Linked DNA regions of Homo sapiens: region 2 is linked to region 1. The links come from fine-mapping of genetic effects on gene expression. A gene starts in region 1. The other region holds a variant in brackets. All regions are shown on one strand. Distances are between the middles of the regions.

Region 1 (16,347 bases):
GCTTTATCATCATGTTATTAGAGCAAATGGCTTCGATGAGAATCTGCTGAACTGTGATGCAAGGATCATGCAGCAGCCCAAACAACAGTTCTTTAGTAAGCGGAGATTCATTTCTCTATTAACGGGGTAGTAGGATTTTTTGAATCAATAAGTGATTTTCTTTCTTTCTCTTCTGAAAGTGAAACTTTTTTCACACTTCTCCAGGACCCATATCACTGTTTTAGAGGGAGAGAGTGTCAGGGGGGAAAACTAGGAAGGGGCGAACTGTATCTCTCTGGTTTGGGTTTTCAAAACGCATCAAAGAGGGTATACGTAGGTGTCTCTGGATAAATCACAGGTAAGACAATACCTAGAGAATAAAACACTGAGGATGAGGGGAAACTTCCCCTGAGACTAAAATAGTGCTCTCTCAGGGACTGGGTAGTAAAGGCTGGAGTAGAGAGGAAGAAGAGAGACCCAAGGGGAGCTGAGGAAAGCAGAGTGCCTCCCAGTGAGACAAGCCTTAAGTTTAGTCAGACTCTCAGAGAGGTGACAGTATCCAAAAAAAAAAAAAAAAAAAAGAAGTCTGGAAAGTGAGACTAGGGAGGGAAACCCAAATTCCCATGTGATCCAAACCAAGTTAAGAGAGGCACAGGACCCAGAGACATTTACGGAGAGAAACAAGGGCTGTATTGTGACCTGGAGGGCCATGGGGACTTCTCAATGCCTTGAGACTATATAAGAATGAATGATATAATTGGTATGGCTGTACTGGTTGATAAATTACCAAAACTGATAAATATTAATTACCCCGAATCACTCGCCTCCCCCAAACTAAAAGATTAATGCCTGGAATAGCCGAGGAGCCTCCAGGACCCCGTGTAAGCACTAAAGCCAGTGTCTGCTTTCTTTCTGACTGGCCGGTATATTGCTCATCTATTGTCATATAACATTTTACTCCCCAAATTGGCAGCTTAAAGCAATATTAAGCACTTTTTTTTTATCTTACAAAGTTCCTGTGAGTCAGGAATTTGGGAGCAGCTTAGCTGGGTGGTTCTGGCTCAAGGTATATCAGTTGAGATGTCATCTAAGTCTGTAGTCTTGACTGGGGCTGGAGGACCAATCCTAAAATGTCTCATTCCCATGATTGGCAAATAAATGCTGACTGTTGTAGGAAGCCTCAGTCCTCGCCACATGGACCTCTCTGTGGGGCTGCTTGAGTGTCCTCATAACCCAGAATGAGTGATCCAAGAGAGGGCAAAGCAGAAGCCACATGTCTTTTATGACCTAGCCTCAGAAAGTTATACTCCATCATTTCTGAAAAATATTCTATTGATAACACAGGCCGTTCCTATTCAGTGTAGGAGAGATTACATAGGGGGTACTAACCAGAAGGTGCAAATTACTGGGAACCATCTTGAAGGCTTCTACGACAGTTGGCGACCTTGCCTACAGCTTGTTAAATATTTTGAATATCACTTTCACACATGAGTCAGAGTAGCCTGGAAAGAGGTGGAGGCAGCAGGATGAGGCAAACCTCAAGCTGAGATTAAATTTTTGTCTTCCCCAAAGAATGGTACCTCAAATAAAAATTGAGCTTTACAGACAACCAAAAGAATGTGAGAAAATATTTACAAAGCATACATCTGACAAAGGTCTAATATTCAGAATCTATAAGGAACTTAAACAGTTGAACAAGCAAAAAACAACCCCATTAAAAAGTGGGCAAAGGAGATGAACAGACACTCCTCAAAAGAAGACATACAAGCAGCCAACAAACATGAAAAAATGTTCATCATTACCAATCATTAGAGAAATGCAAATCAAAACCAAAGAGATACCATCTTTCACCAGTCAGAATGGCTTTTGTTAAAAAGTAAAAACAAAAAACAAAAAAACAGTTGTTGACAAGGCTGTGGAGAAAAGGGAACACTTATACACCATTACTGGGAATGTAAATTAATTCAGCCACTATGGAGAGCAGTTTGGAGATCCCACTACTGGGTATATACTCAAAGGAAAATAAACCATTTTACCAAAAACATACCTGCACCCCTATGTTCATTGCAACACCATTCGCAATAGCAAAGACATGGAATCAACACAGGTACCCAACAACGGTGGACTGGATAAAGAAAATGTGGTACATATATACCATGGAATAGTACACAGCCATAAAAATGGATAAAAGCATGTCCTTTGCAGTGACATGGATGAAGCTGGAAACCTCATCCTAAACAAACTAATGCAGAAACAGAAAACCAAATTCTGTACGTTCTCATTAGCAGAAACTAAACATTGGGTATATGTGGTAATAAAAATGGGAGCAGACACTGGGGAATACAAAAGGGTACAGGGAGGGAGGGAGGTAAGTGTTGAAACAAACAAACAAACAAACAAACAAACAAAAACTACCTATTGGGCCGGGTGCAGTGGTTCACATCTATAATCCCAGCACTTTGGGAAGCTGAGGCAGGCGGATTTCTTGAGTCCAGGAGTTTGAGACCAGCCTGGGCAACACAGTGAAAACCTGTCTCTACAAAAAATACAAAAAATTAGCTGGCATGGTGGCATCCACCTGTAGTAGCAGCTACTGGTGGGGTGGGGGGTATAAGGCAGGTAGGTCGCTTGAGCCCAACTCTGGGAGTTCGAGGCTGCAGTGAGTCTTGATCATGCCACTGCACTCTAGCCTGTGTGACAGAGTGAGAACCTGTCTTAAAAAAAAATTAAAAAACAAAACAAAACAAAAAAACCCCCAAAAACCTCAAACTACCTGTTGGGTACTATGCTTACTACGTCGTGGCTGGATTCATTTGTACTTCAAACCTATGTAACAAACCTGCACGTGCACCCCCGATTCTAAAACAGAAGTTGAAAACAAACTGTTTTATAAAAGTGCAAATTTTGTTCTTGCACACCTGAGTTTGTGTACTGAGATTCATAACTACTGTGTCCCATGTAACTGCTCCCTGAAAAGAACTGCCAAAGTTTTCTTCTGTTGCTTTAATTCTTTAAAAGAGACAATCAGCAGCCCTCTTCTGTTGCTAAAAATTTTAAAAAGAGACAGTCCTTCTCTTTGAAACTCAACTTTACTAGTCATGTGAAGTCTAGGAAGCACTCTGCCTCCCCCCATTAGGTACTGATTTCATTATATCATTCCTTCTGGCAGTCCAGAGTACAGACTACTATTAATTACCTTCCCAGAAGAGCATCTGTGCAGCACAGCAGATGCTAACTAAGGCTGCCTTGGCATCCAAGAGAACAGCAAGATGACATTGAGGGGCTGCATATTTACGCAGCATTCATATTTCACACCTGTAATCAATTATCTACTGTTGGAAAATACTGATAAAATTTAGTCTTGCTTAAGTTTATTAACAAGCAACCATCAATGATAGTATGGCAGCTAGCCACTGAATTATCTAGGGGCATTCTGATTGCAGTGTCTTTGGAATTTTCTAGTATTTCAGGGAGAGCTTGAGTTCTAGAATTTTAGAAATGCTGCCATTTTTCAGAGTTATACTGTTATTCTTGGAAAGACATTTCTAAAATTCTAAATTACTTGGATATATTTGGCATCTGGGTAAAAAAGGAGGAAGAAATATGAAGTTCTAGGTAATTTACCAATGGTAGTAGTAGTAGTCTCCACCCATAAGAAGAATGAATGATTTTTGATTTATATTTCATAAAAACAAGCCTCTGTGGATTATATGTATTCTACCAAGTCTTTTCTTCAACACAAGGCAACCATTGCTGGCCTATTTATTATATACTAGAAAAAGACATTCTGTGCAGTCAAAATGGGTAATTTCCATATGTCAAATCACCAGTGACTTCTGAAGAACACAGACCCCTACCTCTCATCAACAATTTTTTACCTAATAGTGTTGAGGTAGTGCACCCCTAGAACGGAAAGATAATAATAATGGCTACTGTGGCAGCCATGAAGTATACTGTTTGAATCTCCCTTCAAAAAAGAACTTGCTGAAGTAGTGCAGGAAGTTGACAGCCTCCAGCTATTAAAGCCTTCAGGATTAATCTCAGCTTTTGAGCGGAGGCCATGCCCTTCTGGGTATTCCCCAGCCAATAAATGAGCATGTCACTACACAAGGCCTGGCAATTTCTGCCCATTGTGGGTCTCTTCTAATGGGCAATCTTTGCTCAGAAACTTCTCATTGAGTTGGCTGATACTTTGTCAGGTCTAAATCATGGTCTATGGCTCTTCCTGCCCAATCTTTCTTCCTACCCACTTGTCTTACACAGGCATTATATATGTGCCATGGTGTAAAAGTTCTCTATAACCAATTTTGCTTCCTCTTTCTATTTCATATAGAGCGCTCCCAATAAATTTCTTGCATTTCTAACTCCATCTCAAAGTCTGCTTCCCAATGGACCAAAACGACACAGCTACTGTTTACTAAGAACCTACAATGCAACAGAATATATCACAAGGTATTTGGGAATATTATTTAACCTCTCCTAACTGTTCCCTCATCTGTAAAGTGGGGTTGTTTAAGAATTAAACAAAATAATCTAGAAAGAGCAGTTTGTACAGTTCCTGGTATACATTAAGTACTCAATAACTGATATGTAAATTGAAAATATTATTATGCCAGACTCCGAGAAATTTTGTGTTTGTTACTTGTAATCCTTTTTATAATTGGCAAGTATTATGCTTGTTTTACACAGGAAACTAGCATTCAGTGAAGTCAGTTTGCTCAAGTTACTTAATGTACATTGCTAGAATGTGTAACCTGAGATTAAAACCCATTAATCTCCATAGATGAGAGGAATGTACATGTATGTAGGCAAAGAATCCATTGCTGTCACCTAGAATGTAAAGGTGCTCCACACCCTCTCTGGCAGGGTATGTACAATGTAATTAACACAAACTATTTTGGAGATTCTTTCATAAATTTAAGTCTATTCTTCTAATTTCATCAAATATATGACCTTAGAATCCATCAACGGGTGCTTAGGACTAAGCACTTGTCTAAAACTTAGAAGAGGAATATAGAATGGCACTGCTACCCCATGATGAGTACCAGTCAGTTATTTTTGTAGAATGGCTCTCAAATTGGGTTTGTCTGATGTTTTCTAATAACTCGATTGAGGTTCTACTTAAAATAATCTTGCATATTGCTAGAAAAATTTTATCAACTGAAATCACCCCCCATCATACCTCTATCCCCACTGGACACATGTTCAAATTCATTATTTAAAGATCCAAAATAAATGTGTAATAGAAACATAATGAACAGAAGGAAATTAAAATATTCCATTGCTGAAATAATTTCTAGAGAGGTGGCAGCAATTTAAGTGGCGGCTTTTGAAGCATGTCTATATTGTTCCTTACTTCAAAGTTTTGAGATAAACAACTTTAATAAAATTTAAAAAAATTATGTTACATAAAATTTTGAAAAATAGAGATCATGCTATTTTCTCAGGAGTGAGATGGTGATGCATAGGTCTAATAGAATGGATTTGGGGGTGGGCAGTTTTGTTAGACATTCTGCTGGGAAACTAGTCTTTTTTCCAAATAAAACCATGGTGCTGACCAAATAGGCCCTCTTAGGTACAAAAGAGAGTGTGATTTATGATCTCAAAGAGAAAATGACCACATTATGCTCAATGTGGCTGTTGGCCTTTAAGCCAATTTTAGCCGAGTAGTCAGCATGACCACAGAAAAAGATGACCAGTAAAGAAAATGACATTCTGGTCTGGTGACCGGAGTAAGATAGCTGAGAACTACATGTCTGAACAAATGACTTAGCCACTTGTAACTAGAGTAATGCTACCAAACTACCAAAGAGAGGGACTATTCAAAAATAAAAATTACATCAATAATAGACTAACATGCATAACGTGACATTCAGTATATCTTTGCATGAGTTTCCCATAATTTATTTATTGTAAATAAACACCTTTTTGAACATTTTTTTCAAGTAAAGGATTCAGTTATAGTCCTACTGTAGAAAGTAGAGTCTAGATGGTCTTCAGGGACTATCAGGTCACATTAAGAGTATTTAGGGACTCCTGGATATTTGGTAACCAAAAGAGATGTTTATGAAAATACATTTTTGCACAAGGAGTTACATTTACACAGATGTATGTGTCTATCAGAACAGAATATGCACTTCGGGGAAATTAAATACATATCACTTGAAAAAGTAGACTCTTAAGTATGGTTATAAATCTCAAAAAGAAACAGCTCTAATTTATAGCCCATGTGGGGTAATTCTGGGTGTACTCTTTCTGGATGTACTTTCCTTTTCAGTGCTACAGCCACGGCACAGAGGGGTAATTATCAGTTTGCGAAATATACTGTGAAAGGACCAAAGCAATCTCACTGGAAATGTTTCCCAGAGACTCCCCTTTCCTTTCTAAAATAATATAACTGGGTATGAAATGATGGCTGGCACATTTAAAAACATATATATTACAAATGACAACAAACTTTAAAAAAAATAGACATGCCTAAATGCTACAGTTGTGCCAGCAAAGGGGGGACTGGGTACTGATTTTGGGGGAAGCATATTAATTATACAGTCTTTTAAAAATGTAATAAAAACAATGTTCAGTAGATTCGTAAAACAATTCCATATTAATCTGGTTTTTGGTAAATAAAATTCTAAGAAAAATTTCATTCTGAACAAGATGCGTCACAGTGAAGGTCTGGTGACATGGAATGAAGGTTATTTTCTGGTGGCACGGAATGAATAATATTTCCACTTAAATAAAAAGGGATTATGGTTATGATCCACTAATTAGAAACAATGACATAATTTAAAAGCTTTGGTAAATTTTATAGGAGAGTTGTAGTGAGACCAACTTACTCTGATGGGCAACTGTCATAGTAAATAGGAGTTACAAGCTGTGTTACATAACATGGGACACTAATTCACTATGACTAAGACCAGGACAAAGCAGACAGAAGATTCTAAGTAAATGGTTTGATGAAGATGCCGAATATTGCAAAATCAACTAGAATAGTATTATGTTCCATCCTGTGAAACAATGTACATTGTATAAATGCCATAAAGTTTATTAAATTTAAGAGGTTGCTTTAGTCCTTCACAATGTCTGAAGATATTAATTGAATTAAGTGAACCATAAAAAAAAGTACTCTAAAGTTCTCTGTGGACTAATTTGGCTTATATCCTGTGAAATAATGTACATTGTATAAATGCCATAAAATTTATTAAATTTAAGAGGTTGCTTTAGTCCTTCACAATGTCTGAAGATAATAATTGATTTAAGTAAACCATAAAAAAGATGTACTCTAAAGTGCTCTGTGGACTAATTTGGCTTATATCCTACCTCAAAGAAAATGTGGGCTTATTCGAAGTTTTTCCTGTATCAATCTAGTTCATTCCGATTTATTGTCATTCCAACTCTTCAAACATAATCTTCCAGGAAAAAAACCAAATCACAATTTAGCTTCACATAAAAAAAATTATAGACATTTTCATTGTGCTGTTGATATCATTAAGTGAGATAATGCTTCCCGTGGTGTCTGACACATCTTATTCATAATGTGGGTACTAGTATAATCTAATATTTGGCTGCCTGGACATTTCCTTGGTATTTGTCACCAATATTGGGCAATGTTCAATCAGAAAAACTGGACTAAATATTTTAAACACATGTGAATGAAAATTTTCCCAATGAGTGAGAGAGGGAGAGGCAAAACTTTGAAGACGTCTTGTAAAGGAGGAGTTACAGAAGGTAAAATTGATGTTTATGTTTTCAGTGTTACAGTTTTATTTATAGAAGGTTTTTTTATTTAGTTATAATTACATGTTATACAATGTTAAAGAATATAGAATTCTTGTCACTGACATACCAGTTTTTTCCTAAGTGTGCCTGAGGAAGGCAAGTTTTATTAGACATGCAAAATGTTATAATCTATAAGCAATCATTTTCCCCACTTCAGAGTACTGTTGGTGACAAAATTTCTCCTAAATATATTTTTCTCATTAATATTTTATCTTTCATCTACGATCTAAACAACGGATCTCCATATGAATCACCTATCTTTGTTACCTGCTAGTGGCAGAAACTTGGGCAAATCATTTCACTTTAGGGCCTCAGGTTAGGAAATACGATATCCATTGGTGTTTTTTAAACTATGAGTCATGACCTCATTTCTGTGTCATACCAGTAGTTTTAGAAAATAAAATGTAGCTGACAGAATTTGAATAGAAAATGTAGGGGACAAGACACATGACAAAGCTAGTTTTTAAATTTTGTCTCAGTTTTAAATACATGTACACATACTATGTGACAATGCAAAACATATTCCTTTAGTATGAGTTGCAGGAAAAAGAGGTTTGAAAAATATTATTCTCAAGATTCATCAGCCCATTCTAACTCGAAAATGAAATTACTCTATTTTCCAGCTTAGAAATTCTGAAAATGATGACTTTTAACTCAGTGTCATACGGCTTATTGCTTGACAGACAATAGTAGCTAGCTATGGGATATTTAGTTGAAGTGATTAGAAAATATGTATTCCCTCAATTAGCTGTAACCTTTAAAATCCATTGCAAGGCTTTAAAAATACCTCCTTGGGCTTTCCCAGAGGTTTTAGACCCCTCAAACCAACCAATGAAATGTTAAGTGTCAATAATTTCATGAAAATATTAAGTGTCTCTTGTATGCAACATATTGTAGTAAGGGCTGAGAGAGAAAAAAATGAATTGGTATGGTCCCTGAATTCACTGAATTTATAATTTTTAGGAAAGTATCGGCTATAAAAAGAAAACATCCTATGCTTAACTAGAGTTCATATGTGTACTATTAAGAAATGTTATTCTTAATAATCATTAATATAAGCTGTCATTTTTAATCTGACTCATTCATTCAATAAACATTTTTACTGTCTCCAGGTATTTTTCTAGGCTGGATGTTCCAAGGTTAAAATAACAAAGTTGGTACTCTGAAGCAGCTTAAAGTGGTGTAAAATACAGAAAGTAAGCAAGTAAACAAACAAAAAATCAAATAGTGATAAGTGTCATTATGATGGATAGGCATTACCTAAGGGCTACTTTTTATTGGATGGTCAAGAGAGGTCTATGAGTAGATACACTTAAAACTGAGATATGAATGACAAAAGGAAGATGGTTTCTAGGAAAAGGAAACAGCTGGGCAAATGCCAGATACAAGGCAGATAGGATCTTGGTCTGTTTGAGGAATAGGAAGTAGATGAGAATGGCTGGCGGCTAGTGAGGAGAAATAGAATAGTAGGAGATGAGGTAGGAGAGGTAGACAAATGTCACCTGGTTGAGTAAAGCCTTGTAAACCATGGTAAAGTGTTTGAAGTACATTTTTATTGCCATGGGGAGCCATTTGAGGCCTATTGCCAAGGGACTTCTGCAGTCTGATTTTTTTTTTAAGACCAGTAGGGTTGTTGTATAAAAAAACAGATTTTACACAGCAAGAATGAAACAAAGGTGGCTAGGAAACTATCACAATCATTCAGAAGAGACGTAGTTGTGGCTTAGATTAAGGTAATAGCAATAGATATGAAAAGTAGATGAACTTTGGGAAGTGCAATATAGAATTTGCTGATAGACTAGATATGGGAGGTGGTGCCAAAAAAAGGAATCAAAGGTACTTCCTGTAATTTTAACTTGTGCAATTAGGTAAATGGTTTCCTCACCTATGACAGGGAAAAACAAGGTGGGAATGCGGAAGGTGACAGCAGGAATCCGCAGTTCTGTGTGGGATATGTTAACTTTGAGATGCGTATCAGCTAGCTATCTGAGTACGTCAAGCAACCAGACTGGGTTTTGGGAAGGTTTATCAGTTTGGGACTGATCAGCATATAAACAGTATTTCTAGACATAGGATGGTACCTCCATGAGAGTGCCACGCAGGGGCTTTAGCTGCAGCATCTGTTTTTATCTTGATTAACAACACAAGGTAGCTATTTTCTTTTTACACACATATTATTAGATTTTTATATATGAGCCTTTTTGATGTTTAGAGAGAAATAAGCTGAAAGTCACCCAGCTACTGAAAGGTAGAGCCTGGATTCAGATCTGGGAGTTCTTGTTCTTCCTATTGCACCAGGTTGCTTTACTGGAGCATTAAAATATGTGAATTTCTGAGTATTTTTTAACTTTTTGAATGAAAGATTTTTAAAAAGTCTGTTTAGAAAGAATGCCAGCTCATTCAGAATTGAATCCAAGTATATACATTCACTAGTCTTCTCTGTTGTTAAGTGACTTCTCTGGGGTCTATGGTTTGATGGTTTTTTTCCTTTTTTTAAACAAACAAACAAAAAAACCTCTGCGGTTGACTGGAGCCGACAGGTGAGGAATGGAGAGATGTTGGTCAAATAGTACAAACTTTTGGTTGTAAGATGAATATGTTCTGGAGATCGAATGTACAGCATGGTGACTACAGTTATAATTCTGTATTGTATACTTTGAAGTTTGCTGAGAGATTTTTAAGTGTTCTCAACACACACACACACACACACACACAGGAAATATGTACGGTGATAGATGTGTTAATTAGCTTGCTTGTGGTAATCATTTCACAGTGTATATTTACATCTAATCATTACTTTGTATACCTTAAATATACACAATTTTTGTCCATTACACCTCAATAAAGCTGAGAAAAAAAACCCTCCACTCTTTTGACTTGTGGGATAGTATTATTTCTACTTCTCAAATCAACTGCCCCTTCTTTACTGACCAATAACTTTCGGCTGCATTGCAGTGATTTTTAGTTTTTTCTCAGCTTACATATTTCCTCTACAATCTCATGTCCCCATTGCTTCAAATACTAAATATACGCTTATCATCCTCAAATTTTTTACTTCCTGTCCAGACATTTCTCCTTAAGTCTAGGAGATGACGTCCAAAGTTTCCTAAAAGCAATTAGTCTGGTGGGAAAGGAGGCTCCCCCATCCACCCAGGAGTAATGAGGAGCGAAGTTCAGGAACTGTGAAGGTCTCATTCGTACATTCATTCCTTATAAGTACTTACATACTCGCGACAGTTTGAAACCTAGTGTGGCATGCAGACATGGATGAAGCAATGACAGGCACGACGAGCGTTAATGAAGGGTATAAGCTAGCGCGAGGGCATTCAAGGGAACTTCAGAGCGCAAAGGAAGAATCCCACTTAGTCTCTCAAAACTTTGGAGTTTATCCGTTTAGTCGATTAAAAAGTGAACGGAAAGCAAATCCCATTACGGAAGGAGGAAAGTTGGGGACAAATAAGGGATTCGTGCAGAAGGCTGCACTGCGGCCGGCCATGAAGAGAATAAGGGTACTTAAGGGAGTGTGAAGAGAATGAACAAGCCTAGGTAGAAAAAACTGAAAAGCCAGGATTGACGGACACTAAAAACCCAGCATTTGTTAAAAATCCACGTCAACACACACACACACCTCACCCCGAGCCAGCACCGTAGCCCCGCCAGCAGCCAGGGTATCCTGAGATTGCGGGAGCGCCACGCACCGCCCACCTAGCTCCGTCCACCGTCCAGCTCGCTCCGCCCAGCTCGCTCCGCCCCCTTCCCCGAAAGCCCCTCCGCAGAGCCGCGTGCACGTGCGTGGCGGATACCGCCCCCTCTGCTCTCTTGGCCAATGAGAAAAAGCTACGTAACTCTCCACCGCCCGGTGGCGGGTCACGTGACTGCGTCTCCCCGCCCTCTCACCCCGCTGCCTCTAGGTTCTGGGAAGATGGCGAAGGTCTCAGAGCTTTACGATGTCACTTGGGAAGGTAACTTCGGGTGGGGGCGGGTGCGGAAAGACTAAAAGCGCTGGGAAGCCGTTCGGGAGTACCCGCTGCTTTCGGGGAGCTGGGTTCTCTGGTGTCTTTTTGGTACCAGAGCCCTCACTGTACGGGCCAAGCTGAGGTGGAGGCTGAGGCTGACCCTTCCCTTGGCCCGGACGCGTACTCTGCAGCGTTTCCCACGGTGTCTGCTCCTCGGTTGACCTGCCCTCCTCCGCGCCAGTCCAGCGTCCCGGGGCCGCTTTTATTTATGAGGCGGGCGGGAGGGACTTGGGGCTGGGGTTGTCGCACGCTAACTGGTTGCTGGGCGGTGCGGAAGAGGCGGAATAGGTGGTTACTGAAGCTTCTTTGGAGCCAAGAAACACAGGGCCTGTAAGGCCCTTTACTAAGTGGTGTGTAAGGATTACAGCTCTGTGCAGAAAAGCTGTGTAAAAGATGCGTGAACAAATGTGATTCTCATATGCCACTCTACATTTAGTTTTCTTCTTAAACCCGGGTTTCCAGTTTCTTTTCCTTTTAGTCTAGTCTCTGTCCCACTCCTTCTCAAAACACATTTACACACACAACACAACTTCTTTCTTACTCCCTACTAGTAGTTTCTTTTCTGAAGGGAAAAATAACTAATTAACTCTGGGCTACGTAAGTGCTTACGTGTGATGGTCACTTTTCCCTATCCTTAGTTGATCTAGAGTGGGATATGTTCTTTAAATCTGGGAACAGCCAAACCTTGGATCAATTCTGTGTGCTTAAGAAACTTGAGTTTCATTAAGGCGTGGAATTTGTGTAATTGGAATTCATATTCCCAGCATTTAACATAATACAGGAGACTTCAGTAGCTAATTTGCTTAACGAATGCCTTCTTGGGATGTTTTAATAATGACCTGAAAACATGTGGACCGAAAGTTGTATTTTCTGTTTTATCGTGAATAAATATATCAGTTATTATAAAGTTGTAAATCCGTTACAAATAAAGCAAAATTTCTTTGTACTTGAACTGAATTAAATGATTTATTGACTTTATGGCCTCTAGCACGTTGTGAATCTCAGTATTTATACCTGAATTGAGGGATTCCATTATATTAAACAACAGTGTTGATTTCTTACTGCAAAATCTTGGCTCTGTCAACACACAGTCCCCACTTCCAAGGAAGTCACAATCTAATGGAGAAAACAAACCTGTAAACACACAGTTTTAAAAGGCTTGTGTCAGGGTATCTTCCGTAAGCTGAGTCGTAGATAAATGGATGTTATTTTTAATGCTTTTTAAAAAATGTTTTAAATATTACATAATTTTTAGAAAATGCTATTATGAAGGTATGTTCATTATAGGTTTCCTAGATGATAGTAGCATATATAAAATCCTGAGGGACGAGTAGCTGTATACTACCAACAGACAAGGTGATTTAACTGAGTAATTGGACCTTACCCTGTGGTCATTCTAAAGAGGATTGATGTAATTAATTTGGAATAATAAATAATAACTACTACACAAATTTGTAGGAACAAAGAAAACATTTTAAAGTGCTTTGTAAACTGTTAAGTACTATATAAAAGGATGTGTTACTATTAGCTAGTGCTAATATGATTATGTCCTTCCTCTGTATGATCTGGCGGTTGCCCATGTCTCCAGCTTTATCTTGAGCCCTTCTCCCTCTCACTTTGTGAGCTGCCTATGCTGGCCTTTGTTGAATACCCTAAATTGCCATGCTGCTTCTTAAAGCTGGCACATGCTAGTCCTTCCACTGGGAGTGTTCTTCCCTCCTTGCCTCACTCTTGCCCCCATTAAACTTTATCATTTATCAATTCCCCACAAAGCTCACCTACTACAAAAAAGCCTTACTTGACCACTCTACTACCCCCTTCCCTTTCCTCATCCCCCACCAAAATTGAAAAAAAAAACCCAAACAATAAAATGAAGCAACAAAACACACCTGCAATCCTTCGATTATGTATTCTATTCTAATACTATTGAAGCACTTACCCAATTGTGTTTTGTTTTAAAATTTTGTCTCTCCTAAGATGAAAGGGACCAGGCCTGTTTCTTCACTGTCACTTCCCTAGAGCCTGACACATGGGGGCGGAGCTCAGTAATTATTTGATGACTAAATGAATTGTTAATGAGATTAATAATAAACACTAACACATTGTCAGAAAAGATTATAAGCCATTTTTCTAGCGTTGAAATAATTTCTTTAGTATCTTAGATACAGGTTTTAGTATCATTCTTCTCTTAGCTTGAAAATGACCTTTTTAGAGAAGCCTTCTCTGACCACCCTTTCCAAAAGCTCCTCCTTTCTCCCAATCTCCTGACTTTATCATATGGTCTTTTAGTTTTATTTGTATAATTTCACTATCTGAAGTTATGTGGATTTTCATCTTTTTACCCTATTATACTCTAAGCATTATGAGTATATAGGAACTTTATCTTTTTCTTTCTTTCTTTATCCTCAGTGCCCAGATCAGGCCTGGCACATAGGCATTTAGGAAATATTAGTTGAGTGATGAAGAACTCCAATATTTACTCCAAGAAGTAAATATTAGTGGAATAATGAAGTATAGTTCCAGTCATACACTATACTGCCTCAAAGAAGGTAGGAATCATTGGGTATCTTAAGAATTTACATTGTAATGAAGTAAATCTTTAGAAATATCTGGTAGTAATTTACAGATTGAATTTGGGTTGAGAGATCAGTTTGGAAGCTATCCTAGCAATTTTAGCATGGGGTGATGAAAGCCTGGGCATGGATAATAGCAGTGGAAATAGAGTAGAAGATGTAAATCTTCGAAATACTTCGAAATACTTCAAAACAATCCACAGGACTTAGATATACAAAACTCCCACAGTGGGAGTCAGAAACAGCACTAAAAAATGGAATGTCAGGTAGTATTAACAGAAGGTGGAATTAACAGAAATGTGAACATTGGGAAGGGAGGCCATATTTTTAGGAAATGAAGATGACTTGATTTTCGGATGCTGTGATTTTGAGGTAATGAGCTATCAAAGGTGAAAACATGTTTTCTTCAAGATGGTTTTATTTTTACAAATAATTTTTTTAGATAAATGTATTTAAGGCATTTCTAAAAGTAGTATGTGGTTAATAGTGCTACAAATGTATTTATTACAGCAGCACTCAAGAGTGTGGCAGGGTCAGCTATGTAAGGTGTATAGCTTAAGGTGTTTATAGGTAAAATGTTGCTTGTTTTGTAAGTTATATTTTCATACACAGTGTTTCTTGTTTTGTGTTCAGCTATTATATTTTAATATGTGACTGTGTGTCAGACTGCCGTTCTTAGAAGTTATGCTTTAAAAAAAGTTCTCTTTCCTATGAGTGTTTTTTCACAATAAGAAACACCTTTTACAAATTAACTCATACTCAATTAAGTATACCTATACATGAATCTTTGAGTGTATGTATAAACTGAAACCAAAGTTGCATTTACAAAGGATTCTAATGAGTATTGCTTCCATTCTGTTCATTTTGTTTCATTCTCCCCCACTGCCCCCCCACCCCCAACAGATGCTGGAAGAAATCCACTGAACCGATTTTATACCCTATTAATGGATTGTAATACACAGTTTGAAAAATACGTCTTCTGGAGCTCTGTGTGCATTAAAATAAATTAACCCTTTCCTTTTTCAAATCAGGTTGCCTTTTCTTTTAGAATAGCTGTTCCCAACAGCCTGCAGCCAATCTGACTAGATACTTTTATGGGACCATGAATAATTTAAAATTTATTATCCTGTAATTATCAACCTTTTAAAAGAATATGCTGGTTTATGTAAATGAATCTGTAAGTGGTATTTCCGAATATATAAAAAAATGAAGTGGAAAAGATACAGGATTGGAGGAAGTAGTTTTGGACTAAAGAAATCATAATTAAGTAGCAGGCATATTTTTCCATCTTTCAGAGGCCACCTCACTGCAGTGACATCTCATGCAAGTTGTCATGGAAGGAATAAACAGAACAATCATAGCGACTCTCTTAACCTTTGACCTTTAGCTCATCTCACAGGATTGCACAGTAGTTAATAAAATGTACAAGCAAGCAGTGAGAAGCTTACTTACATAGTATGTAATAAAATGACCTTGGCTTTGAGGAGCGAGCTTTTTGCAGGAAGGTGAAAGGGTAAAATGAAAGTTTTAAGCCACCTTTGAGGAAAGAGTGAGGGAAGAGCCTTTATTTCTTGTGAGAGGCTGAAACAGTTACCAGATTTTTTTAAAAAATAAAAGTAACTAGAATTTTTGTAGGGCTTCACATTTTATAAAATGCTTTACACGAATTTTCTAGTGTTTGGTGTCCTAAACTCAAGGGCCAAGCAGATGAAAATACATGTAGTTGGGTGAAAGACAATAGTGGTGCCTGTGAAGAACTGGTAAGTGTATACCCTTATCTAAGGGTAATCAAAATCAACTTAAAAACAAAAATATCCAAACTATTGTACGAACCAAGCAACTTTATATATATTTTATGTAATCTTAACTGCTCATCCCTGAGCTAAAGGTAATATTATCTCTATTCATTGGTATTGGAAACTAAGTACAGATTCGGTAAGTTATGTAAGGTCATGTAAAAGATGGAGTTTAGATTCAAACCAAGTGTATCAAGTCCATGT
Region 2 (16,347 bases), 37 kb after region 1:
TCCTAGGCCTTTGCTCATGTGTTCTTCCCACTATGCAGTTTCCATAAATAACTTCCTGTTTTGTTTTTTAATGTCTACTTACTCTTTGTTTCAGTACACGTATCATATGTGGGACCGTCTTTGCTTTCTGTCTTTCCAGTTCGTCCACTCTGACACAGCATGTGTCAGAATCTCTTCCTTATTTTCATAACACCCTAGATATCCCTGTCATTGCTCTTACTGCATTAACTTTTTTATTTGATACGTTTTTGTCATGAGAATGAGCTTCTGCAAGGAATTATCATTTCTTTTTTATCTTTATATTTTCATTGTGTAGCACAATATTGGCAAACAGTAGAAGTCTGGTACATATTTGATGAATGCACAATAAATGGCATTGATTTTTATGTTTATCATTTTAAAAACTTTAGAATACAGCTTCTAATTGTTTTGCTTATCATACAATATTTATTTCAGGACTGTATTATTCTTGTGAAAGACTCATAGGTAGATTTTCTCTTAAAATTGTGAAAAAGTTGTCAGAAGACATATTTATATAATGATATTCAAAGGCCATGCCATGGTGAGATTTTTTTTCCCCTAATCTCCACTGTTCCTCCCCCTCTTAGGATACAGATCTTATGAATGAGACAGAGTAAAGGGCTTTAAGTTGGATAAAGATTAAGATTCCCTGCTGGTTAATAATTATCAGAATCTGGATGATTATTTATTTGGATGAAACGATGCATACATTGTGTGCATCAAAAGTAAAGCATATGTGATTGTTAGAGGAATGTTTGAATTCCCCAGTGGGATGTCATGGGGTATGTTTATAAACTCCCACTAAGCAGTAGTTCTACAATGGAATTTCTCTGGCATTGAGATAATAATTTGCACAGTCAAATTACCTTCTTTACAAAACCCCAAGGAATCATAAGGGCCTAATCCTTTATTAATGTCAACCCACAGGCTGCAAGAAAGCGTAAGATTGCCATTCGAAAAGCCCAGGGGAAAAATGTGGAGGCCATTCGGGAGCTGAATGAGTATCTGGAACAGTGAGTATTTTACAAGAGGATTGTGTTTTGTTATTCTGATAAATCTTTTTTAATTAAAATGGAATTTGCATTTGATTTTCCTGTTTGTTTTCATGCTGTTCATTTACAGAATATCTACACACTTACTTTTTTTTCTTTTCCTCTCACCAGATTTGTTGGAGACCAAGAAGCCTGGCATGAACTTGCAGAACTTTACATCAATGAACATGAGTAAGTTATTAAACACACAACATTTTGTTGAGTGCAGTTTTCATCACTGTAAGTTCAGAAAGCACTGTGGTTTCCAAAGGATTGGTGAGAGGGTGTGAATCATGTCATTTGAAATGAGAAACAGAACAAATCAACAATTAAATGAAAAAGAACAAATCAGTAATTCACTGGTCATAATAAGTGAATAGCTTTAACTAGGTCATTTGTGTTTTGCCAAATTGTTTATGTTTAGGAAATAAGTTTTTCTTTCAAATATAGATGGCATTCTTTGGAAATAAAAAGGCCTGCATTTGCTAAGCTAAGTTTATTTTTGGTAAATCAAAATTGTGAATTTTTAGAGTTCAGATTGTTCTTATATACAAAGAGTATTATACTCCCTGCTGTTTAAAAATTCTGTCAATTGTATGCATGTATTAGCCTTAGTACTAAGAGAATCAACTCTTCCAAAGTAGAAGCATTCTGTTGCCTGGGTAAAAAACTGAGAATAATCAAGAATGTTGAATGCTCTAGGATCTTGCTTATTGGATGTTTAATGTTTTTGTTAGCTTTTTTATTGCTGTAGTGACAGGAGGAAATCCCAGTGTGAGAGGATTAGTCCAGAGTCTTAGTGCAAGTTTTCTAATATTACAGCATTAATGCTAACCTCCATCTAGAGGCGTGTTTTTTATTTTTTTTCTTAGTTCTTCTAAATCTGAAGTATATGACATTGTTTCTTTTCCTTCTTTTTGACAGAATAGAATCAGATTCTCATGCGCATTTTCTTGTGCATGAATATTTAACCTTGTTCTCATACTACAAACAACTGATGAGAAACAGAATGAAGACATTTGTCTATTGTCTGTGGTCTATATATATAATGTGATCTAGAGGATTGAGGTAGTCTATTTGCATAAGTCTAAGGAAAGTGGGAGCTAAAATAAAAGTAATAGCTGTAATTTAATGAATGTATACTATATTCTAGGAACTGTTTTTCAAGTTCTCTGCTATACTCTGAAACAGATATTCTGGTTTTGATTAGGAAATTATTTCCTGAATCACATTCAGTATAGATGATATGCTTGTATGTACACATATGTAAACATACTCATGATTTCTTACACATGTGAAACAGTATATAATACTTATATTTAAATACATGAAATTGAATTTTTAGAGTATAGTAAAAATAATTAGCATTAATTTTATTTTGTTTCTAAAACAGGTGACAGTCATTTAACATTTTTTGTACTTTCTAAAGATTTTCTGACTAAAAGCATTTTAAAACATTTCAAATCAACAAGGAAATTTTTTTTTTCAAGTTAAAGGAATACCTAATGCAGAAAATTTGAGAAACACAGTAAAGCATAAAGACCAAGACAAAAATTACATGTAATTCCAGCATCCTAAGTTAACTATAGTTTGTTTGGTTTTTGTCCTTCCTTATCTTTTAAAATAAAAGCCCAAAATAAAATTATCTTCCGTAGTTTATACTTTCCCTTAGTTATATTTTGTTCAAAAATTTCTTGTCACTGTAACAATCTACAGTGTGTTTTGAATGGCTTTATATTATTTCATCTTACTAATTTACCCTAGTATTTTTAACGAGTTTCCTAGGGAGATATAAAGGTTGTTTTATATTTTTATATATAATGCTGTAGTGATCATTTTTATTTTGTTTCCTTGGGTTAAATTCTTTGAAGTAAAATTGCTTGATTAAATAAGATGTACATTTTCTGTGGTTTTGATAAATAGTTCCTGATTGTTCCCTAGAATGGTAACATCAATTTACTTGCACACCAGCATTTACTAGAGTCCCTCTTTAACAACACTGGATACTATGATTCTTTTTTAATCTTTACAAGTTTGATAGGTGAAATTGGTTCTACCTTTTTAGTTCATTTTTACGAGCTCTTTTTATAAAGGAGAGCAACCATTTGTCAAAAGTATATCCTTGTTATATGCTTTTTAAATACTGACTTCTTAAAATTATAGAAACTTTACATTTTTAGAAAATCAGATTCATCAATTTTTAACATTATCATGTCTGCTGTCCTTTAATAGCTTAAAAATATATCACCTTTTCCCCCTACTTCATTTGCAATTTTATTTTTTTGCATGTATTTCTAATATTTATTTCATCATCAAATTTAGGTTATACCTTATTTTTAACCTACCATTAAATTTACTTATTTTTTTCACCATGTGGTACCACCTTCAGTTTTGCTTTGTTTGGAATCTAAAGAGTTTATTGAAACAGAGGTGAATGTACACTTAAGAGAAATGAACTGAGAAATCTCAAAAAATGAAGATTTACAAAGATGTAGGAGCACCTAAAAATATTTTTTTAGAGAAAATGATAATTATGGTCAGCCTACCCTTTTATCTAGTATCACAAAACTCTTTTTGGTCTTAAAGCTAGTTAGTTACAAAATGACCATTTTTTTTTTCTAATTGAACACTTAGAAGGAATATTTATGTTTAGGTGACTGGAAATGCATATCTACAGGTTTTTTTGAAACTGTGAAAATTACAATCAGTTCACTTGATTCATTTGACATGTTTGAGCAAGTCATTATAGGAGGCAGGAATTTTTTGATGGAATGTTAAATTATCGTAGGATATCAGTTTTAGCACCAGTCTTGGGGACACAGTGGCAAAAACGTAGCAGTTTCGAAAATGTCAGATATATTTAACATTCGATATTCCTTTCTGCATATGAACAGTTGTAAGCTTTTTTAAGTATAATAGGTCGCAGGCAGCTTTGGTAGCCTATATCTAGAACTATTTTTTTTCTTTAAGAGACAGAGTCTACAACATTTCCCAGGCTAGACTTGAGCTCCTGGGCTAAAGTACTCTTCCCACCTCAGCCTTTTGTGTAGCTGGCACTACAGGTGTGTCACTGTGCCCAGCTCTGGAATTTTTAAACTCCAAATAAATATCTATAGTATAATTTTCATATAGCCCTATTTAATGTTTCTATAGAGAGAAAAAGGGATATAGAATTGTGCCATGTAACCTTTTTATATTTTTAAGTTACTTTTATAAGTTTGTTTCTGATTTATAGTTTGTTTTTAGTTATTCCAGGGATATATGTTACATCCATTGACCATATTGAGACACTTGTTCTAAAGTTTTAAAACTACAGTTAATTTTTTTGTGTCAGCACTACCAATATGTATTATAGGTTAAGTATCCATAACCTGAAAATCTGAAATCCACAATACTCCAAAATCTGAAACTTTGAGTGCCAACATGATGCTCAAAGGAAATGCTCATTGGAGCATTTTGGATTTGGGATTTTTGCGTTAGGGATGTTCAACCAGTAAGAATGCAGATATTTTAAAATCTGAAAACTTCTGAAATCTGAAACATTTCTGGTCCCAAGCATTTTGGTTAAGGGATACCCAACCTTTGTAAGCAAAAATACATTCACATTATGAAAGACAAATTTTTTTACTTCATTTGTTATTGAAACTAGATACTATACAGCAAGGAACAGTTAGTATTATACATTAATTATGATTGTGATTATAGTTCCTTTTCATAAGTCCAGCCTTTTAAAATTCCATATCAACGGAATTACCACAATTCTTTAAGGAAAAATTGTGATGTTGGTAAAGTAACACACAGTACCAAATACTGTAACCTTTAGTTATATATACTTTTGTAAGGAAGAGAAGAAAACTTTATTTAGTTCTAGTACTGACTCTAATATTGTAATAACAATTGTTATTCTGTTTTAAGTAGATTCAAATTATTTTTACTTCTCTATTCTTAGTCTTGTTGAGTCACTGTGTGTAATGAATTAACTTCTCTATGCACCTAGAATAGTACTGGCTATGTATTATCCCTGACAAGACTGAGGAAATAGTCACTTTCTGCGTGGCCTAACAATGGCCTAGAAAAGCTGGACTAGACCATCTGTTGAGCTCCTTCTAGCTCTAATTTTATTTAATTCTATATTTTATCCACAAAATTAGTTTGATACTGTACTTTATAAAATTGGGGGAAGGAGTCCTTTTCTCATATGTGATGCTAATTGATTTTTGAGAAAATATCTTGGTATTCATTTTACCCTAAGAGCTGCTACTACCTGCCCATTTTATCTTGCTTTATGCACCAGTGTCACAGTTGTGCTCAACCCATTTAAATGTCTAAGAACTTTTATTCTTAGTCTCAATATGAATTTTTGGCATCATACTATTAATAATTAAAGGAACACATTTAGAAGAGAACTGTCTTTTGATAAAGTGTTTAAGGTAGAGACAAATTTTCCCTTTTCTTTTCGAGTGATAAATATATATTAGGTAGGTAGTCATAACACATTTGTTTTAGACATTTATTCAATCATTTGTTCAGTCTTATTAAATACCTATCATGTGTCAAGAACCAATGCTAGGTTTTGAATTTAAAAATGGAAAGGGCTAAATAGCTGCATGATCTTGGATGAGAGTACACACACACACACACACACACATACATATATATATGTGGTCCTTCATAAATCTAAAATGCTGTAATTATTAGGTAATCTGCAGGGTGTATTTTTTTTCCTCAGTCCCTTTGGGTGTGACTGCTGTACACATTTTCATGTTACCATTGACATCTTCAGTTTTTCAATGTGATGTGTAATGCATATAAGCAGCATATGTAGTGGTTGAAGAGTACAGGCTGTCTGGAGTGGCACAGCCTGGGATTCAGTTTACATCTCTGTGCCTCAGTATTCTCAGCTCTAGCATGTTGATAATAATTTCCTTCTTCCTAGGGTTTTGGTAGGATTAAATGAGTTAATACATGTAACACATTTAGAACAATGCATGACACGTAATAAGCATTTAGTAAAAGCTATTATTAGTATACATGTGTGAAACAGGAAAATAATTTTTAAAAGTATATCAGGCAGTAGTGTAAAGGTAGATCCCTTTGTATACTGGTAAATGCCAAAAATAACTTTAGGTAGCCTCTTTTTGTTGGGTAGTGTCATCACTTCCTCACTGGGAAGAAATCTTGTAACACCTGTGTTCATTAGAATTTCCTGTAGATAGTGAGGATAGTCACATGGCATTAAACGTTTAAAATATATTTAGTGAATTACAGTCACATGCTTTAAAATGTTTTTCCAGAGCTCTTTCTGGCAGTTCTCTTTCCTTAGGTTTTCAGCAAGATTTTTGTTTATTCTACCACAAGATTAAATAATAGTACAGTATATATCAAAACCAACTTGATCTGTTTTTCATGGGCTTAGAAATTTATAACTTCATTATAATTTGGTATTTGACAGTGAACTTAAGTAATGAGAGAAATCTTTGTAATAGAATATGTTGGTAAATATATGCCTGTGAAGAATTTTTAGTGAGTAGAGAATATTTAATAAAATGTTTATTTTCTCCTTACACATTAGCTGTTTGAATATTTTTTTAAATGATCAGTCAACTTCCAGAAGTTGTTTTATATACAGCTTGATCCAAGGTCTTGAAGCCCTTCTTATTAGTAGTGATGGGATGTAGTAGGAGTGACCCAGTTTTTGAAATGTAGTATCTATTGATTGTTTGCAGGCTGCTTTAAGATTTAAGCCTGTGTTTATTAATTTCATGATAAAATTTAATGTCATTGATATTTATGAATTTCAGATGACAAATACTTTATTAATAAAGCTATGTAAATTATATTGGGAATAAATTGTTTAACATGACTAAAGTTGTTTTTAAATTATTTCAAGGTTTAACTAAGATAAAAATTTGTGACTTTAAAAATTAATTTCTCCTCTTGATGTGTTTTTAGCTATGCAAAAGCAGCCTTTTGTTTAGAGGAACTAATGATGACTAATCCACACAACCACTTATACTGTCAGCAGTATGCTGAAGTAAGTGTTTTCAGAACAATGGCATATAATTTTATTTTGGTTACTATTCGGTGTTATTATGGAACTAAGAATATTTCCTTGATGTTAAGCAAGTATATAAATATTTAAAACATCTGATGAGCATTGAATTGTGGGAATAAAAGTTTAAAATTTTTAACATTGCAGTGGTAATACTGACTTAAGACATACTTAAAACAGTGAAATTCCTTGTATTTTTATATTTGTATACTATTTTCTTTCCTAATTATAAGTTATATCACATTTGTCACCACTTAATGGCTTGTGAGACATTTATAGTGATTATGATTGTTAAATCCATATTCTGGGAAATTTGTATTAAAGCCAATTGGGACATAAGTATTTATTTAATTTGCATATTATTAAGAATAGCAGTACAACTGAATGCTATAAGGCTAGAAGGACTTCATTATTAAAGAATGTCCATGCAGATTATAAAAGGACAATTCAATATTTAAGTCCACATTTATAATGCCAGTAATAGAAAATACAATGTGAGGTGAAGCATTTGCGAGGCAGCTGAAATAGAAATTATTCTGGCTTTTTATTGCGGCAGCATTTTTGTTTTAGAAACTACTCAGTCATCTCAATGTTCATAGAATAGAATAGCTTTTTTGGGGAAGGTTATGTTTGAAATTTTAGATTAGCTTTAAAAACCTTTAGGTGAATTCTTTTAACATCTTGTATTTGTTTACAGAGAATATCTGTTTCGATTACTGAATGCCTATGGTATGATGAAACCATGCTATATTTCAAAGTAGTAAAATAAACAGTTTTCAGCACTTTGCAATTTTTAACAGGTTAAGTATACCCAAGGTGGACTTGAAAACCTCGAACTTTCAAGAAAGTATTTTGCACAGGCATTGAAACTGAACAACAGAAATATGAGAGCTTTGTTTGGACTTTATATGGTGAGTTGAGGTGCATGTTTAATGTTATTTTTAAAAATCTGTCACTTAAAATCCATTTAACTATCCCCTTCAATCACTCCTCTCCTGTTTTTTGTATTTTATTGATAAGCATGTTTTTTTCTGTAATTAATTCTGAGCAATAGCTTGTGAGCCAGTTTTCTTTTTGAATGTTAACACAGCCTAGCTGTTTGACATTCTTTTTTTGTAAACTATCTTTTATATCAGAATTGAAATCTGCCCTTATAAAATTAAATAGTGACAGATAGGAAGAAAACATGATTTCTTGTTTTGATATTCTTGGGTTTATGCCCAACATTATTGTATTTCTTCCCTAAATTATAGTTGTATGAGGTATTTTTAAACAGTGCCAATAAAATACATTAGAAATCAAATCCCTAATACATCAAATTAAAACATTTTTTATGGTGTAGAAAAACAGTTTGGAAATTGTGGGAAGTATGTAATGACCTATTGTTTAGGTATGCCAAATGCTGAGCTTAGAAAAGTCAATTAATAAGAGCTGTGGGAAATAGAGGAATAATCTGCTGACCTTTAAAACATATATATAAAGTGAGCACCTCCCTACAATAAGAAACGCTGGGAGAAATAAACTTTAATATTTTATTTATCCTGTTCCTTTGACTTCTTGATGAGTGTCTTCTTGTTGCAGCTCAGTGAAAAGGAACTGAGTGAAGAAATGGAAATAGGAAGAAACAAAAATGAAACAATTTTTAAAAAGGAATGGCAAAATATGGTTAGAAGGTGGTTCAAATGAATTTCAAGAAAATTTTCCTGGATTTTAGCAAAGCCAATTGCAATGGCTTGAAAATACGCTATAGTAGAAGTATCTCTGTATCAAATAAATACTAATTTTAAAAACTAATATACAACAAATTAATAATAGCTTATACATGGCACTTCATGTGCTGGGCATTGTTCTGAGCTCTGTTTTTTATTTTAAATCAATAAATCCGCACATCAACTGTTTGAGTAGGTGCTCTCAATACTATCCTCAGGTGGTGAAACTGAGACACAGATTTAATTAATTTGCCCAAAGATGGGCACAGAGCTCCTAAATGATCGAGTTGGGTTTCCAGCCCAGGAAGTTAACTCCAGAGTTTTTCTCGTAACCACTGCATCTGCTAAAATTCATAAGAAGAAGGTAACATTAAAGTCATAGAGGTATAAAAATCAGATTTGGGGATATAGATTCTTCACTGGCAGAGAGGGAGACATAGGTGAAAGAGCCTATAGCACAGGCTGGCATAAAACAAAGGCTTAACCTTTTTTTGAATCACATGGTCATATTCTTTTAAGAGTAAAATATATTTAAGAATAGGAATCAAGTTATATCTTACTCTTCACAGTAATATATACATTTAATAATTAGCATATGATTTTGGGGTTTTATGGATTCTTTCACAGATCCCAGATTAAGAACCGCTCATTTAAATACATTTTTAAAAAGGAGAGGGTGGATCAAATTGCAGGGACTAATTAGTTCTCTGAAACACAGTTTGAAAACTCATGGTATAGTGAAAAGAGAAATGGATTAGAGATAAGGATCTTCTTTATTTCGAAGACCCATTATTTTGCTTTGGTCAAGTTAAATCTCTCTTATTGGACTTAAATTTCTTTAACCTATTAATGTAGGATGTCAGGCTAAATTATTTTTGAGTTTCCTTTTTCTATAAATATTCAATAATTCTATGATTCTGACATAGCAAGTTATGTAATTCAGTAATAAGAAATAACACCAGTAATATCCTACAGTGGTAAAGTGCTTTTGGTTTATAAAGTGTTCTTCTAGAGCTTCTTTATTTAAATGATATGGAATTTTACCTTTAAGAGCTGTTACAGGTACATAATTAAATAATTTTAGGTATTATTTAAAATATCTTTTCCCTTTCCACTATTTTGGATTTATACTATATTTTAAAATATATTTTCATTTTTAAGCACTAATATTCAACTTTATGTTTATATTAAAAATTATTTTAATACAGTTTTTAAAAATTCTTTATTATCCCATTGCAACCATGTCCCTTATGTTTTTGATTATCTTGACTAGCAAAAAAGGAATTTTGCTTTTGATGTTTTTATTTGTTTTTAGTCGGCAAGTCATATTGCTTCTAATCCAAAAGCAAGTGCAAAAACGAAAAAGGACAACATGAAATATGCTAGTTGGGCAGCTAGTCAAATAAACAGAGCTTATCAGGTTAGTATTTATTGATCATTTTGCTATGTAGGTCAGTTAATGTATTTCTTAGTTTTGTTACTACAAACTACAAAGTCGTATGTCTAGCATTGGACTTATATATGCCTTTGGGGCTTTATCAAATGTGTTGTGTTTTGAATTAATTTGTAGTTTTAAGATTACCTTTTTTTCCCCTCAAGAGGAATCTGTTAGTATTATTATTTCATAATTAGCCTTACCATATGGAAATCTCAGTGGTTCTGCATTTGGCAAACGCAAAGTAATTCTAAAAACTCAGAAAGGATAAATAAATATCACGTCACATTTCAGAAGCAGATTGGGTATGTGAGTGTATTATTAATCATAGGTATCTCAAGAAATAGAAAAGAAGGAAGAAAGCCTTAAACTAATCAAACTGCATAACAAAGTTTGTGCAGTCTGCTTACACTTCAGATCCTTTACTGAAACTTCTCCATTTGTATCTTA[G/A]TTTTCTAAAGTTCGTCCTTAGCAGATTTTTTAGGAAATTATTTTTCGTTAGAAATTTGCTCATGGGAAAACACATCTTTTTATGTCTTTAGCCTTATTTGTCTATAGCCTTTATATTTAAAGGACAATTTGGCTTTTTATATACCCGTTAATACTTTACCTAAGTATCTTAAGCATACTGTTCAGTTTTGTTTTGTTTTTAATATAGACGAGATCTTGCTATATTGCCCAGGCTGGCCATGAACTCCTGGCTTCATGTGATCCTCTTACCTCAGCCTCCTAAGTAGCTGGGACTTCAGGTGCAGGCATCACCATGCCCAGCTATTTCATTCTGTTTCAGAATAAAATGTTGCCGTCAGGAAATATGATGCCGTCTTGACTTACTTTTTATCATAAGTGACTTGTCTGGTTACGCAAAGGAATTTTTTCTTTATCTTTAAAATCCAGTAGTCTTACTATGATTTGTTTTATTGATTATTCTTGGGTCAGTTTTCCCAAATACACAGTACACCCATTTAGTACATCAGTTTAGCCCTTTTATTTGAGAAAAGTTGCTTTTAGAATTACAAATATTTTTTTCTCTGCTTAGTTTTCTTTTTCAGGGTTTCAGTAATACGTGTATTAGACTTCATTTTTCTATGTCCTTTATTCATTTTCTTTCAAATTATTTTGTCATTTTCTGTATTTTATAAAAATATGAATTTGATTCATATTTTTCTTTCCTCCATGTTTAAATGAGGTAGTTTTCCTGGACTATTAGGAGACAATGTTTATGGAATGGCAGGGAGTTGGAGATAGGTTAGGGTAGCTTTCCCAGCTTGGCTATTCTATGGCCGTCTCCTTTTTTGCTAAAGAGAATTCAAATATGACCTCTTTGTATAGCCGGTCTTTCTTAGAACTGAGTATGAATGGCCAGTCTGTCTTAGAACTCAGTGTGACTCAGAAAGATTTTCTGGCTTCAGCCCTCTGTTCTGTTTCTAGAGCCCTCAAAGTCTTGAATTCTGAGGTGTTGCTCTCACTTTAAATGTTACATATTGTTGTTACAGTTTGTGTTTCTTCCTTTTTGTTTTGTTTTCTTCTGGGATTGCTGCCTCTGGGCATCACTCCTTTCCTCACCCCTCCTTGTCTGAACCATCTCTCCTTCTTGCCCTGGTGTTTCTGCCCTGTTCAGTTTGGTTTCAGTTTTTAATTGTTTTTCTTCAGGGTGTGAGGTTTTGTCCTTCTGGAAGAGGATGTTTGCTAGATATTTTAGAAATTTTAAGATATTAGACGGTTAGACTTGTCTAATCTCACATTTATGAGCAGTTTTTTACATTTATCTTTGTTTTGGAGCTTATGAAGACTTCTAGGCCATTGGCAGCTGCATCATCTCAGGTTTTCTTGTTTAGTGGATTAAGAATTCATAATTTGTTTGGTTTTTGGTTTCTTGTAGAGTAGTAGGTTGTCCTCTATTACTTTCTATTCCTCCTACCACACAGTTGTTAATCTTTTGTTGGTCATGCTGCTCTTGATGACATAGTCACATTCTAGGGTTTGGAAAATTGACTGTTACCTAGTTTTTTTGAAAATGTCACCTGTGGGCGTGGGTTCTGTTATGTTGGTTTTGGTGCTGGCTTTTTGTTGTTCGTTTTTGCCCTTCTGGTTGGAGAAAATTGAGAAGATTTTACAAATGTAGTGCCTCCATAATCACATCATTGAAAGTCACCTTTGTGTATTTTTATTGTCTGTTATAGAGCATGTTAGTTTTGTTGGCATATTCTAAGTCAGAGTATTTATAAATATTAGTGAGACTGTGCTTCTTCAAATGCAGTTTGGGATAGCTCAGATCTGTAATGGAGTTCCACACAGAGTAGGCTTGGGGGTGTGTGGGTGTGTGTGATTTATGTAATATTAAAAAAAAAGATTTGTGTAATATAAAAGTAACGTTATGCATACTACATAATTGTTTTTAAGATATGAGAAACAGCTACTCAGAGTGCTTTTTTGACATAACTATTTTAAAATCAATTTTTACTAAATTAATAACATAGAAATAAGAATTATAACAGAAAAAAGGATGCAAGTCATAAATGTGCCTTTCAGTGACTAATATAAGGTAAATGTATCCAGGCTAATAAATATAAACATTGCAGCATCCCAAAGCTCTCTTGGTAAGTCCTCTTAATTTCTCCTTTTGTATTCCTTAAGAGTACTCACTTATAACCCTATAGTTTATGGAATCAGCCAGTATGTATTCATTTTTGTCTTGCATATTTCTATCATTATTCAGTTTATGGGATTTATCCTTGTTTGTGTCTGTAGTTCATTCATTTTCTTCTGTAGTTCATTGTATGAATGTTATAATTTAGTTATTGCTATGCATTTGGAATATTTTCTGTTTGGGCTATTTTGAATAAACTATACTGAATATTGCTGTACAGGTCTTTTGGTGGAATATATGTGCAGTTCTGTATACCTTTGAGTGAAAATATGGGTCATAGAATGTATGTATATTTAACTTTAGTAGTTAAAGGCAATTTTCCAAATTAGTTTACTCCCACCAGCGGTAAGAGTTCTAATAGCCCCACATCTTCACCAACACATGGTTCTGTCAGTCTTTGTAATTACAGCCATTCTGGTACATGTGTAGAGTGGTACTTCATGGTTTTATTTTGCATGTCCCTGATGATCAGTTGCCATTTGGATGTCCTCTTTCGTGAAATGTTTTTCTCATTGGTTTGCATGACTTATTTCTTTAGTTTTTTGCTTATGAGCCCTTTTTTAGTTATATGTATAAGCAAATATGTATAACTTCTTACTTTTTTGCTCATATGATCTTGATGAATAGAAGTTCTGAAATGAAATGTGTTCGAATGCCTCAGTCATTTGTTTGTGTTTTTTGTGTTCTGTTTAAGAAATCTTTTGCTACTCACGGTCATAAAGAATTCTGTGTGTCTTCAGAATTTCTATTCTTTTACTTTTCGTATTTAATCCACAACCCATTTGGAATTGATTTATTTTTAATTTTTAATTTTTATTTTTTTAAGACAGAATCTGGTTGGTTCTGTTGCCCAGGCTGGAGTGCAGTGGCATGATCATGGCTCACTACACCCTCAACCACCCAGGTTGAGTTATCCTCCTGCCTCAGCCTCCCAACTAGCTGGTACTGTAGACGCATGTCACCGTGCTCGGCTAACTTTTAAATTTTTTGTAGAGATGAGGTCCAGCTGTATTGCACAGGCTGGTCTCAAACTCCTGGCCTCAAGTAATCCTCCTGTCTCAGCCTCCCAATGGAGTGCTAGGATTATAGGTGTGAGCCACCGCATCTGGCCTGGAATTGATTTTTATGTATGATGTGAAATAGGGGGTCCATTGCTCCCCATATGGATATCCAGTGTTTCTGTCCATCTTTGTGTTCCATCATGAGTCCCGTCCATGGAAGCTAGTTCAATGTAGTAAAGAGAAGATTACAGATTTGAACCCATGTTGTCTGGGTTCAAATTTTGACTCTGATATAATTATTAGCTATGCAAACTTGGATAAATTACCTAACATCTCTTGCTGTATCTTTTCTTCTGCAAGATGGCCATAATGAAATATTCTGAGAATTAAAGAAATTAAAACATAAGTTATTATGTTTTTCCTTTTCCCTGTCTCTTCAGTGTGACAAGACCCCCTTGAGGTATATTGAGATATAATTTACATGTAATCAAGTGCATATATTTTAAGTATACAGTCTGAGTTTTGACAAATGTGTACATCCCCTTACCAGCCCCCCACTCAAAATAGCATTTCCATCACCCAAGAAACTTTCCTTCTGCCATTTTGCAGTCAACCTCATCCCCCACTGGGAGACAGACAAGCACTGATCTGATTTTTATCACCAAACATTAGTTTTGCTTGTGCTATAACTTTGTATAAATGAGTTCATAGGTTATGTGCTCTTCTGTGTCTGGCTTCTTTCACTCAGCATGTTTTTGAGATTCATTCATTTACAGTCCATTTCATTTTTCCTATTACTTTGTCTACCCATGTATTTTCCACAAATTATGTAAAGGTAAATTTAAGCCCAAGCAAGGTATCTCAGTTATTACAATGCATGAATCACTGACCTCTGAATTTGATAAGCAAGTTTTTATTGTTTGGTTGTTTTTGTGTTTTTTTCTGGTGAGTTTTCTTATAGATCTTACAGAGAATTATGAAAGATTTACTTAAGCAAAATCTAACTGTATGAAAACAAAAATACAGTATTTGTGAATAATGTAAAAGAGTATATAACTTTCAGAGAATGACATTCTTGATAACTAGGTAAATCTTTGGGATCTCAGTGAGAATTTCTTAATCATATCTAGGAATATAAACCGGTATAGAGTATATAATATTTCGTATGGGATTTTTCTACGTATTTATAAATTAGGGAAAATTAGGTTTCAAGAACTGCTTTTCTTTCTTTGTTTCCACTTAATGATGAAACAGAATATGGCTACTATTTGCTCGTCAATTAGGTAATTGGTTTAGCATGTTCAGTAGAAGCAGACACATTTGATTAATGCACATGAAAAACTTTAATGTGAACCTACTCACAATGATTTTCCAGATAAATCCTTCTTTGTTGCACTGGTAAATCTGTGCTAGTGATTTATATGATATTTATGATTGCAGCAGTGATTCTGTTACTATCCTTTTGGGAAACAGAAAATTAAATCATGATTTGAGGGAAAAAATGATTCTGACTTAATCAGTTAAATTGCCATACAATTCTGGAATAGACAGAATAATTGCATGTCAGATTAAATTTGAAGTGATAGATTTGTATTTCCAACTTTCTTTTATTTGTTCTGACACAAGTAAATTTATTTGGTTTATTCTAAATTGCACTGGTTGTGAGTAATGTTGACACCATCTCAGTTGACTCTTTAAAATTAGCTAATTTTAAAAGATCACACTGTATTATTTTTATGTTTAAGTATAAACCAAGAAAAATACTGTATTTAAAAATACATGTTATGGTTTTAGCTCTACATAATTTTTTTTATTTTTACTTTGCTATTTAAAAGCAATTAGAATAAATGTTACGTGGTAATGTTACTATGTGATGTCCTATTCTGTACCCCTCCCCCAACCCATAAAACTTTTTCTCAGAATTAGACCTTTAAGTATCTGATTAGGACCGTTCCTATTTATGTTTCATAAATGGTGGTAAATGAAAAAGCTTTCTGTTTCTGGTAAATCCTTGTGTAAGTGAATTTATTAACTGGATAACAGAAGTAATAAGCATGCCTCACAGCCTTTAGTCCTCAGGGGAAATTATAAAAAGACAAAATTTTAAATGTGATATTGCTGTTACCATATTTAACATATGAATTCCTTAAATTCGTGATGCCTTTTGAAAGGCAAGGTGATCTTGATTTTTATGAGAAGCTTTTTTTCTTTTTCCTCTGGCATTTCCCCTAGAAACATCCTTTATTTACTTTTTCAAATCAGGATTCAGCTACAGAAACTAATCTAATGGTTTAGAGTGTAGGAAGTGAGGGAATCATAATGTTAAGCTGTAGCCAGAGGGGTCAGAGACAGGTTACCAATTCCTGAAGCTTGTTACTTCTATGATGTTACCTGTGTTTGATCACTTAATCTTTCTGAACAGGTCATGAGAAGTTTGCCAAATTAAGT

What was found. PIP is the estimated chance that this variant, and not a neighbour inherited with it, causes the effect.
Region 2: its variant is fine-mapped to the expression of EMC2 in whole blood (INTERVAL, PIP 0.98).

Annotation. Positions count from the first base shown.
Region 1 is chr8:108,431,979-108,448,325 of GRCh38, forward strand. It overlaps EMC2 (ER membrane protein complex subunit 2), which reads left to right and starts at 11,646. Exons shown (of 11, transcript NM_014673.5): 1 at 11,646-11,720. The coding sequence starts at 11,681. LOC105375704 (a long non-coding RNA gene) reads right to left here and starts at 11,494. Exons shown (of 3, transcript XR_928530.4): 1 at 11,392-11,494. RefSeq lists a silencer at 11,480-11,599.
Region 2 is chr8:108,468,878-108,485,224 of GRCh38, forward strand. It overlaps EMC2 (ER membrane protein complex subunit 2), which reads left to right. Exons shown (of 11, transcript NM_014673.5): 6 at 949-1,034; 7 at 1,185-1,244; 8 at 7,005-7,086; 9 at 7,905-8,015; 10 at 10,129-10,233. Among named protein-coding and RNA genes, the nearest start is that of EMC2, 33 kb to the left of the region's middle. The variant G/A (reference allele first, on the strand shown) is at 10,699.